2 separate regions of the Homo sapiens genome follow, and region 1 is linked to region 2. Evidence: fine-mapped expression QTL. Tissue or cell type: whole blood. Region 2 holds a variant in brackets; the other region holds the start of a gene. All regions are shown on one strand. Distances are between the middles of the regions.

What was found.
Region 1: PPIP5K2 starts here. The variant in region 2 is fine-mapped to the expression of PPIP5K2 in whole blood (TOPMed, PIP above 0.99).

Annotation. Positions count from the first base shown.
Region 1 is chr5:103,117,372-103,122,760 of GRCh38, reverse strand. PPIP5K2 (diphosphoinositol pentakisphosphate kinase 2) reads right to left here and starts at 2,460. Exons shown (of 31, transcript NM_001276277.3): 1 at 2,273-2,460. GIN1 (gypsy retrotransposon integrase 1) reads left to right here and starts at 2,623. Exons shown (of 8, transcript NM_017676.2): 1 at 2,623-2,697. RefSeq lists enhancers at 2,060-2,119, 2,170-2,359, 2,390-2,649, 2,485-2,985, 2,986-3,487.
Region 2 is chr5:103,089,917-103,095,305 of GRCh38, reverse strand. All of the region lies in intron 7 of GIN1 (gypsy retrotransposon integrase 1), which reads left to right. Among named protein-coding and RNA genes, the nearest start is that of GIN1, 28 kb to the left of the region's middle. The variant C/T (reference allele first, on the strand shown) is at 2,771.

The sequences.
Region 1 (5,389 bases), 27 kb before region 2:
AATCTCTGCTCTCAAAATCAGAGGAAATGGGAGCTCCTGCTCCTGCTGCTTAGCCTAAACGCAAACACATAACCAGTTTTCCTGAAATTCCAAAAGCATTTTCCAATGGAAACACTGTTATAAATGGTGTCTCCTTTCCACCAATAGTACATCCAGGTAATAGGGAATAAATAGGCTTCTGCAGGCTGGCAAAGGCAACCTGGCTCATTTATAAGATTACACAAAAAAAGCCTATTCCAAGTTCCACACAACCTTCTTGTTGATTTCTTTTTCCTTCTTCAAACGTTCATTTAATATCTTTTTGCTGAACCTGCATTTCCTTCTGCCTGGAATTCACTGCTCTCCTTGAAAGTTCCTATCCGCCATTCAAAAACCAACTGAAAGGTCTTCAGTGAAGGTTTTCCTGAGAACTATCACACTTCTGTTAGGCCCCAAATACACATAAAAACCCTCTCCCATCTTCTATGTTCCGCAGCATTTTGGATCTATCTTTTCACTTATCTGTTTCCATCAGGGTTGGGTTTTTTCCTCCCCAACTTTTTATTATGAAAAATTTCAAATATTCGGAAAAGTTGAAAGAACAGTTTGTTAATCATCTATATGCCCACCATTATACTCACAATTGCCAACATTTTGCCATATTTGCTATTTATACACACAGACACATACACACACATACACTTGCTGTACCATTTGAAAGTACTAGATATCAACACACTTCAACTCTAAGTACGTTAGTATGTATCTGCTAAAAATAAGAACACCTTCCTACATAACCACAATTCCTTTTCCACGTGAGAAAATTAATAGTCCATAACATTGTCTATATTGTGGTTGCATGGGAGCTTTTAAAGAATGAGGACCTAATCTATATATTCCCACTACTTAACTTGGTTCATAGCACTTATTTGGGTAATCAACAGATGTTCTACCAATTGTTCAGTTTAATACCCTCACAACAACTACTCTGAAAGTCATATGAATTTAACATTTAAAACAGCAACCTTTGATTTTAAAATTTTCTGCAAATCAGTTTAGTCATTTGCTTTAAATAAACCTGTGCTGCAGTAAGTACAGTATTCTGGGTTCTGCACTACTTAATTCTGCATCACAATGCTCCATAAAGACAGAGATCATGTCTAACTTTTGTCAGACATATAAGTAGGTACACCAAAATTTTTTAAATGAATGGATACTTTCAGACACTGAAAATGTTAGTGAAGAAATTGAAATCGAGGAAGAACAGGACAGGACAATAGAATACAGATTTTGAAGGCAGACAGATCTGGTTTTTAACACAGATTCAAACGTTTACTTATAACAAATGTTTAATAGAGCAAGTTGCTTGACTGTTCAAAGCCTCCATTTCTAACTCTGTAAAATGGTGATAATAATCTAACATACCTCCTGGAATTGTTGAGAGGAATAAATGACAAACTATGTAAAGCACTCGGCACACATAAGACTCAGTTAATGGCAACTATCGTTATTATTTTATCTATCTGAGACAAAAAAATTATCTATTTCATTTAAGAATTCTCAATAGCAAAACAAAATCCTGTCCCAGTGTAGAGCGAGGATTTTACGTGCTAAGGTCAGCTATGCTTCCCACTTCCACAGTTAAGCCTTCCAGCAAGACAACTACTAGCCAAAGGACACCAAGAGTCGCAATCTCCCAGGAAGTGGTCAAGAACCTCGTGAATGAGATCCAGGGATCATCACCCTGGCCCCTTCTTCTTCAAGGCGCAGAAGGCTGCAACGACCTCCAAATGACTAGGTGCGGCAGTGCCCTGCAGCCTCGGTCCCTACTATGAAAAGCTGCAACACATGAGGCTTTTGTTATTTTAAAGTGGGTGTGGGGTTGACAGAGAGAGGGATAAAGACTAAGGCAGAAAATTTTTTAAAAAGCCACCTCTACCCACAGCAGTCCCATAACTCGAGGCTAATCACTTCAGTGGAGCCAGGCACAGCGTGGGGTAGAAGCTCAGCGGTTCCCTTTTAGCTGATCTTCAATTTCTGGCGTCTCGAACCCAAGAAATGAAAAAGGGAAGCCATGGGGGAGCAGGAGGAGAAATCAAGGCGCGAAAGGACCCTCAAAGCTGTACTGTCACTCCACGCCCAGGCTGTCATTCTCTCCAGCACAAGCCCCTCGGTGGAGCATGTGTTTAGGGTCTGCAGAGCACAGGAGACAAAGCAGAAGCCCAGCAGCCGCCTCAACCCTGGCATGATCAGGTTCCGCATCTCCGGTTCTCCTCCGGTTTTGGGCCCTCACCTGCCACGAATGCGGTCGTCACGCGAGCAGTTGTGAGATGGTCAAGCCCATTCAGGTCTAGGTTACCCCCTTTCATCCCGGAGGCAGGGGTGAGGTGTTTGTCAAGAGACTTCAGTTGTAGGCGTGGACGTAGGCTACTTCCTTCAGTAACAGCTATAGGGCCACATAAGGGAACCTCAGGCTACTACACCTCAGGAATCTCCGTCACGCCTCTTCCCCGCCCTCCTCGGGTCTCACGCCGAAACCTCACCGGGCGGAACGATTTCCGGCAAGAGCCAAATGATCAGTCCTAACCTTTCTGACCGTGGTTCCAAGGTTCCCCAAAGGACTGCCCTCTAAAGGACCCGGGTAGTTCCGCTTCCGGCAGCGCGAGATAAATCACGAGAGGAAGCTTAAATCTGTCGTTTGAATTTAGGACCACCTCGGTGAGTGGTCGTTCTGGTGTGCTGTGTCATACCTACTGTTTTTTAAAGTGAGGCGTAACCCGACAGTAATTTCAAAACCATTCGCCTCGACCGGCCTAAGGAAGGGTTTAATTGAGTCTGTGGGGAGATTTTGCGCAAGCGCCTTTGAGATAGGAGGGCCTTGGGCGTTGCGATGTCCCGCGCTAGCTGAGCAGAAAGGGCGAGTGCTGTTTCGGGCCTGGGGAGGTGCCTACTGGGTGTAATTGAGTTTTACCAAACGGTCATTTTCCTGCTGATTCTGAGTGTGGTTGGACCTTGCCCTTAAGATTCCGTTAACGAGTCGCCCAAAGCTTAGGAAATGCTCCCTCACAGCGTTTGAGACTAAGCACTTTTGGCCGGCGTTGAAGAATTCTCCCCATTACTTTGATCAGTCATTTAATCAGAAATTTTGCCCCAAATTTAAATACGTGGCGGGGAGAAACGTGAGGTCAAGAGGGAATCCTGTCACGTAGTTTTAAAAGAAAAATGTCCACTTTATCTCAGTGTAGGTTTTTCTTAAATGGGCATTTCTGAACCAAAGTAGATACTTTTTAAAGTGGAAATGCATTTATCCCATGTGGCTTCATGTGAATGCATATGGCGATGAAGGCATTTTTTTGTTCAATGAATTTGTACTCTGAAGTGAACCAGATTACAGAGAAGTGTATTTAAATTTACAGGTCCTTGACGTTGCATAAAATTGTGCGTGTCCATTTTTTGGAGCTTAAAATAGAATAATTCAAATGTCAGAATTCCGATCCAAGTTAACATGTTGATTGAAAATTGCAGATTTTAAGATGGAACCAGCGGGTATTATAACCTTTTAGGGGCTTAAATTGGTGGCTTTGTTTTTAACCCTTGGTGAAACAGTTAAGTCCTAATCTTGACATAATACCTAACTGCCTTACTTTATTGAACACAAAATTATTAAAGGAATTAAGCAATGAGTTGATTTTATTTGCTTTTATGGAGGGGACAAAGTGTATAAAGCTTAACCAAATGTGACCCTGACATTCCTCTTGCAAAACTACAAGTTGTAATCAATCACTTTCATTTTTTCTTATTCCTACATGTTTAAGTACATTAAGTAATGATTTTAAGAGAAATTCTTGAAAATATGAGCATATCCAAAGAAGTCCCAGGACAGTCTTTCTTTATGTAGTAGAAACCACTTAATCCCCCTTGTAAATGATACCTTTACTTAGCAATCAGAGTATAAGAAGATATTTATATTTGTCTCGAATATTACAGTTTCAAGCCATTTTCTCATATGTATGGGCTTTGAAAAAAAAAAAACAACTTTCATTTACGTTACTTTTGTATATGAATACCAATTATTAGCAGTAAAACTTTTAACTACTTCAAAGGCTATGCTTTTCGTGAACTGAGTTTTCTTTCTTACGCATTTTCTATTTCTCCTTGTCATCTGTCTCTCTACCTCCAGAACCAGCAGTTTGTGAACTGCATTAGACTGTTATATCGTTATAAAAGGATACAATTCGTGAGTCTTCTGATTATTTTCTTCTTAGCACTGAAGCTTTATAAACATTGCTATAAAACATTAACACCATTAATGAAAGGAAAGAGATTTTAAAATATTTTTTCATGTAGGTGAAGATTTTGGGAAAAGAAAGGGTTTTATGTTACTTTAAACAGCCTGATATGGATGATAATACTTAGATATGATAATAATTATACATTACCATATACAAAGGACTTTTAATCATCCTCGTAATTGCAAAAAAGGGATAGATATTATGTCCTTTTCCAAACATAGATACTAAGGCTTAAGTCTATACCTTCTTAGACACAGTTTACTTATAGTGCCATGTATGTGAAAGTGAACTGTAATGTTTTCAAAAGTGAAATAATTTACCTCTGGAATATTTGCTATAATTTTTAATTCTCCTTTCAGGAAATGCAGGTAATTCTTTATTCATTCACAAATAGTTGAGTGTCCACTGTGTTCTGAACATTATGTTAAACAATGTAAACATAAAAAATTAATAAACTCTTTCCATTCCTCATTTATAATCTAAATTATTGATTACAAAAATCACTTTATAATTTGTGTAACAGAGGCCTGAACCAAGTATTATAAAAGCTAAGGATAACAAGTAATTGACTTACTGGTATAGCAGGGGGGAAAAGCGTGAAATTTGAAGTAAGAGACACCAAGTTAAAAGTGTCAGCGCATGTACTCACTTTATTACCTTGAGTAAATTGGACAATCTCTGAACCTCCATTTTCCTACCTGTAAAATGGATATAAAACTAATACCTACTTCATGAAGTACTGTGAGGATTATCATAGTAAAATACTGCATAACTATTTGCAGCTGTAGTCGTGAGTCACTTAGCAATGGAATAAATTCTGAGAAATGCTTTGTTAGGCAGTTTCAGCATTGCACGAATACAGACTCTACCTACATGAACCTAGATGATATGTGTGTGTGTGTGTGTGTATATTTTTTTCTTCATATAGAGAACCAAATGTCCCTGCACATTATTGGGTATCATTTATTTCTCCTACTTGATCTGCAGTGCTAATATCAAATGACCTATATCAGGTTCTATATATGCTCTGCTATCATCTTACGGGACCAATAGGCAGTCCATCCTTGACCAAAACATTCTTATGCAGTGCAATTGCGTTGGCATTGTTTTTAAAATTT
Region 2 (5,389 bases):
ATGTTCCCCACTTTATCAAGGCTTTTATTTTGTCCTAATGTGTCTGCTTCCTAGATCTTCTCTGAGGTGGATAACTGAGAGAGAGTTAATGAGTAACTTAGCCAGGTGAAACATTAATATTATTTGGATATAAGTAACATTTAATGGAAAATATATTTATAACAATATAAACAAGTTATATGACAGGCTTTAGCAAATATTAATAACAAAAAGAGTAACAACAACAAATAACCTACACTTACCCTATGCCTTTTCTTGAGTTCTAAAGCCCATGTGGGCTGCTTAGTAATGATAGCTCAACTCTGCTTCTAATCTGGGTTACAACACTCATGTTAAAACCTCTTAGTACCTTTCCTTCTTGTGACAGACCGAGTTGTTTAGTCAGTAAACTTATCTTGAACTACATTCTAATCCTGAAAACTCACAAGTGCTTTCGTTCTCTTTGTTAGAAGATAAAAGCTTGCATTGTTTGTACCTCTTCTCAGTTCTGAGCTACCTTTAATGATCTCTCTCTTCTGCAAGTTAAGTAGGGAAAAAAAAGGTTATACAAGTATATGTTGTTCTAGCTTCTTTAGCATGATTTTCCCCTTAATCTTTGACATTCATGATTTGCTCTCTTCTAAAGTGTTAAGCTTCTTTAATACAAAATTTAATTTAAAATTTTGCTAAACCAGGATCTATCAACATTTTGTAATTTGTTCTTGTCAAAGAGTTTCTCAGAAAAGAAGTCAAATATTGTGCTTCTTCTGAACATTCAGAACTCAGTATTTCAGAACTCATCTTCTCTGTTTGAGAACAGTCTCTAAACAGAGGCAGTATAATATTTGCCTCATACTTGAATTCTTTGCACAAGATTCTTCCAGTAATATAAGGACAAATAATATTGCAATATGACTACTGGTGTATGCATAAGGAATTTAAGACTAATTAGATGAGTCTGTTTTAGTTTTTCTTGTTAACTAAAGGAACTACTGATCTGGCCATCCTAGAATCTGGTTCTTATTGCTTGATCCTTTTTTTACATTTTTCTCATTTGTAGAAATTAAAAGTAAATGTGATTTCTGCCATCTTTTTCCTCAATATTACATACTTTCTTGAAAATCTTTTCCATGATTTTCTTGAAAATCACCTCACAAGTTGATTTGAAAGAGTCCTTGAGCTGAATTAAAGCAAACAAAATGATTTTGACTAATCATTGAAGTTTTTATTTGACATAAATTTTGACATGCTATAGCCAAAAGAACTATAAATTTATTTGTCCACATTTGTCATTGCTGCTCTTTGCTAGCCTTGAAATTTCATAGCTCTGTTAAAAACTCACTGTCTAAAGTAGATATACTTCTATTGCCAACTTCTTATCCATTCTTATCTAGAACTAAATGTAGAGTGAGCACATTCAGTACTAGGTATACAATATTTTTCATTGCTATTTTAAGCAGGCCTGTTTGTTTTTTTGTCTAGTTCATTGCCAAGCGCTTTTTCAGACTATTTAGACCAAGAAATCTTAAAATACCATAGTGTCTTTTTGTAATCATAATGCTCCTCTTTGAAAGGAAAAAATAATCTGACATAGATTTTGCACAGTTTTGAATTTATTTTGTTTGTGATAGATTTGGATCTGCCTCACCCAAGGTTTTAGCCTGATTTCCCTTCACAGTTGAAAGCCCCATTTGTGAAACCATTTTCATTATTGTATAAGTTTCCTCTTGTTGCTGTAACAAATTACTACAGATTTAATGGTTTAAAACAACACACATTTATTATATTACAATTCTGAAGGTTAGAAGTTCAACATAGATCTTACTGGGCTAAAATCAAGGTATTGGCACTGTTGTGTTCCTGTCTGGAAGCTCTAGAAAATAATCCATTTTCTTGTCTTTTCCAGCTTCTAGAGGTTACCTTCATTTCTTGGCTTGTGGTCCCTCTATCTTCAAAGCCAACAATAGTGGGTTGAGTCCTTCTTACATCACCTTACTCCAACCTCCTCTTCTGCCTCCCTCTTCTATATTTGAGGACCCTTGACCTTGGCCCTGCCCAAAAAGTCCAGGATAATCCCCCTATTTTAAGGTCATCTGATTAGCAACCTTAATTCCATCACTACCTAAATTCTCCTTCACCATGTAAGATTACATATTCACAGGATCCAAGGAGTAGTATGTTGACATCTTTAGGGGCCTATTATGCTGCCTACCACAATTATGGTCTGCATTCATGAAACAAAGCAAAGCACAGTCCCTATAGTGTCAAGACCATGATCTTGACGTTAATATAGTTTATGCAGAGAGCCTTTTTTTGGCCTCTTAGTTATATCTTTTTTTTTTCTTTCTCTTTTTTCCTTTTTTTTTTTTTTTTTTTTTTTTGAGACAGGTTCTTACATGGTTGCCCGTGCTGGAGTGCAGTTGCACAATAATAGCTCACTGCAGCCTTGACTTCCTGGGCTCAAGCAATCTTCCCACATCAGCCTCCCAAGTAGCTTGGAATGTAGGCATGCATCACCATGCCTGGCTGAGTTTTTCGTTTTTTATAGAGACAGGGTCTTACTATGTTGCCCAGGTTGGTCTCAAACTCCTGGACTCAAGCAGTCCTCTCACCTAGACCTCCCAAGTGTTGGAATTACAAGTGTGAGCCATTGTGCCCGTCCAGTTATATAATTTCTTAACCAATAGTTACTCAGTTATCTGTTGACAGTATTAGTTATTATAATGACAGTGATTTAGTATCAAGTTATAGTTATTATTTTATCTTGAGAAAGGATATACTAGTATGGCAG[C/T]ACATTCTAATAGTTTGAGGATTATCAAACCATATATAGGATTAGTTTAGTCACTTCTCTTTAAAATAAGAAAATTAAGTAGTCTGAAACCTTTATCTTTTTTTTTCTGATTGAAGAAATACATTAATCTAAATCAGACTTTTTTGAAGCTGTAATTTGTATTTATTTTTCTCAGGGAAATTTAAAAATTGATTTTTTAATTATTATTTTTATTCCTTAAAACAACATTAAGGCTGGGCACAGTGGCTTATGCCTGTAATCCCAGCATTTTGAGAGGCCGAGGTAGGATTGCCTGAGCTCAGGAGTTCGAGACCAGCATGGGCAACATAGTGAAACCCCGTCCCTACAAAAATTAGCCGGGCATGGTGATACGCACCTTTAGTTTTAGCTACTTAGCGGGCTGAGGCAGAGGATCACTTGAGCCCGGGAGACTGAGCTGCAATGAGCCAACATTGCACCGCTGCACTCCAGCCTGAGTGACAGAGTGAGACCCCATCTTTTTTTTTTTTTGAGATGGAGTTCAACTATTATCACACAGGCTGGAGTGCAATGGTGTGATCTTGGCTGCCTGCAACCTCCGCCTCCTGGGTTCAAGCAATTCTCCTACCTCGGCCTCCTGAGTAGCTGGGATTACAGGCGCCCACCTCCACACCCAGCTAATATTTGTATTTTTAGTAGAGACGGGGTTTCACCATGTTGGCCAGGCTGGTCTCAAACTCCTGACATCAAGTGATCCACCCGCCTTGGCCTCCCAAAGTACTGGGATTACAGGCGTGAGCCACCATGCCTGGCTGAGACCCCTGGGATTATAGGCGTGAGCCACCATGCCTGGCTGAGACCCCATCTCTTTAAAAAAAAAACCTACATTAGAAATGGATATCAAAACTGCTGATTAATACCTTCCTGAAATGTCTTGAAAATATTTTAATTTCAAAGAAACTAAAGACTTATTCAGTCTTGTCAAAACCAAAATGATGCTTTCATCAAACAGATGTCATAATCATAACTAAATTAATGGAATGAGAAAAGATAAATACTTAGTGAAATGTACTGTGTAATGTAGCTGACTAGAAAAGACCTTTAATATGATATGTTTGCTTACTCCCCGCCTCTGTTTTGAGGGCAGAAAGTTTAATCATATTCTTTTCTGTATCCCTAACTCATGATTGTTTTAGATTAGTGTTGTCCAATAGATGAATAATAATACAAGAGCTATGTAATTTAAAATTTTCTAATAGCCACATTTTGAAAAGTACAGAAATAAATGAAAATAACCTTAATAATATATTTTATATAATCCAGTGTATCCAAAATATTACTTGTTCAACATGTAAGGCCACAAGAGTCTCTTTTCTGATCTCTTTACTGAAATTAAAGAGCATTTCTCTTAGCTCCAGTAGATTTAGACCATAGTAGGAGTTGAAACATATTTGACCTTTGCAAATGAATGAGAATTTTTTTTGTAAACAAACAGGCCTTTGACATATTCAGAGTGGTTTTCTATGTGTATAAAGTGATTTATGTAGAATTTGCTGTGTGTAGTCCTTGTTCTCTACAGTTTTATTACAATAAGTTACTTTAAAGGTTAACTTTTTTTAGAAGAAAAAGAGTGTGTGTGTGTGTGTGTGTGTGTGTTCGTGTGTGACTTATTTTACTTACATACAGAAGCTCTCTTAAAATCAAGTGAGGTTGGTATGTCCATTTGTTTCTAACCAGTGTAACTAGGAGGTACTCAAGTTCAAGGTCTCTGAATCCATTTCAGCAAATTAAAATGAAAATTTCTAAGAGCTTTACATCTAGGCATATTTTTCCCTATTGACATATGTTTACTAGACATATTTTTCTAAAGTAGTCCTACTTCATCTGTATGAAAAAACTTTTACAGACAGAAAACCTCCTTCATTAATCCTCTGAAAGAGTCTTTGGGCATTTCTTAAATGCCTATGGTAACTGCCATCACTGATAACTTTGTAGGAATGTACAGGCCTTGAACCTATGGAATTCTCCATGACTTAGTAGAAAATTTCATCAGCAACATGTTTACCCTATCTAACCTTTTAATGTTCTCTTATAAACTACCGCCTAGCCTTCTCTCGTATTAACAGTAGGGTAGTTGCAAACTTTGATGTTAAACCTCTAGCAACACATTCTGAAAGTGTTTCAATGTTATTGATCATGTTTTCTTCCCTCTTGCTGCTATTGGGTATAACACATCTCATGTGTTGCATGATTTTCGTTGTTGTTGTTGAGACAGAGTCTCGCTCTGTCACCTAGGCTGGAGTGCAATGGTGCGATCTCGCCTTACTGCAACCTCCACCTCCTGGGTTCAAGCAATTCTCTCACCTAAGCCTCCCCAGTAGCTGGGATTACAGGCACATGCCACCATGCCTGACTAATTTATGTATTTTTAGTAGAGATGGGGTTTCACCGTGTTAGCCAGGTTGGTCTCGAACTCCTAACCTTAAGTGATCTGCCCGCATTGGTTTCCCAAAGTGCTGGCATTACAGGCATGAGCCACTGCCTGGCTGCATGATTTTTATTTTATTTTATTTTTTTTTGTCTTTCAGAATTATGGGAGAATAAATGGCCATACAAGCCCAAGCCCACTTATGCCATCTT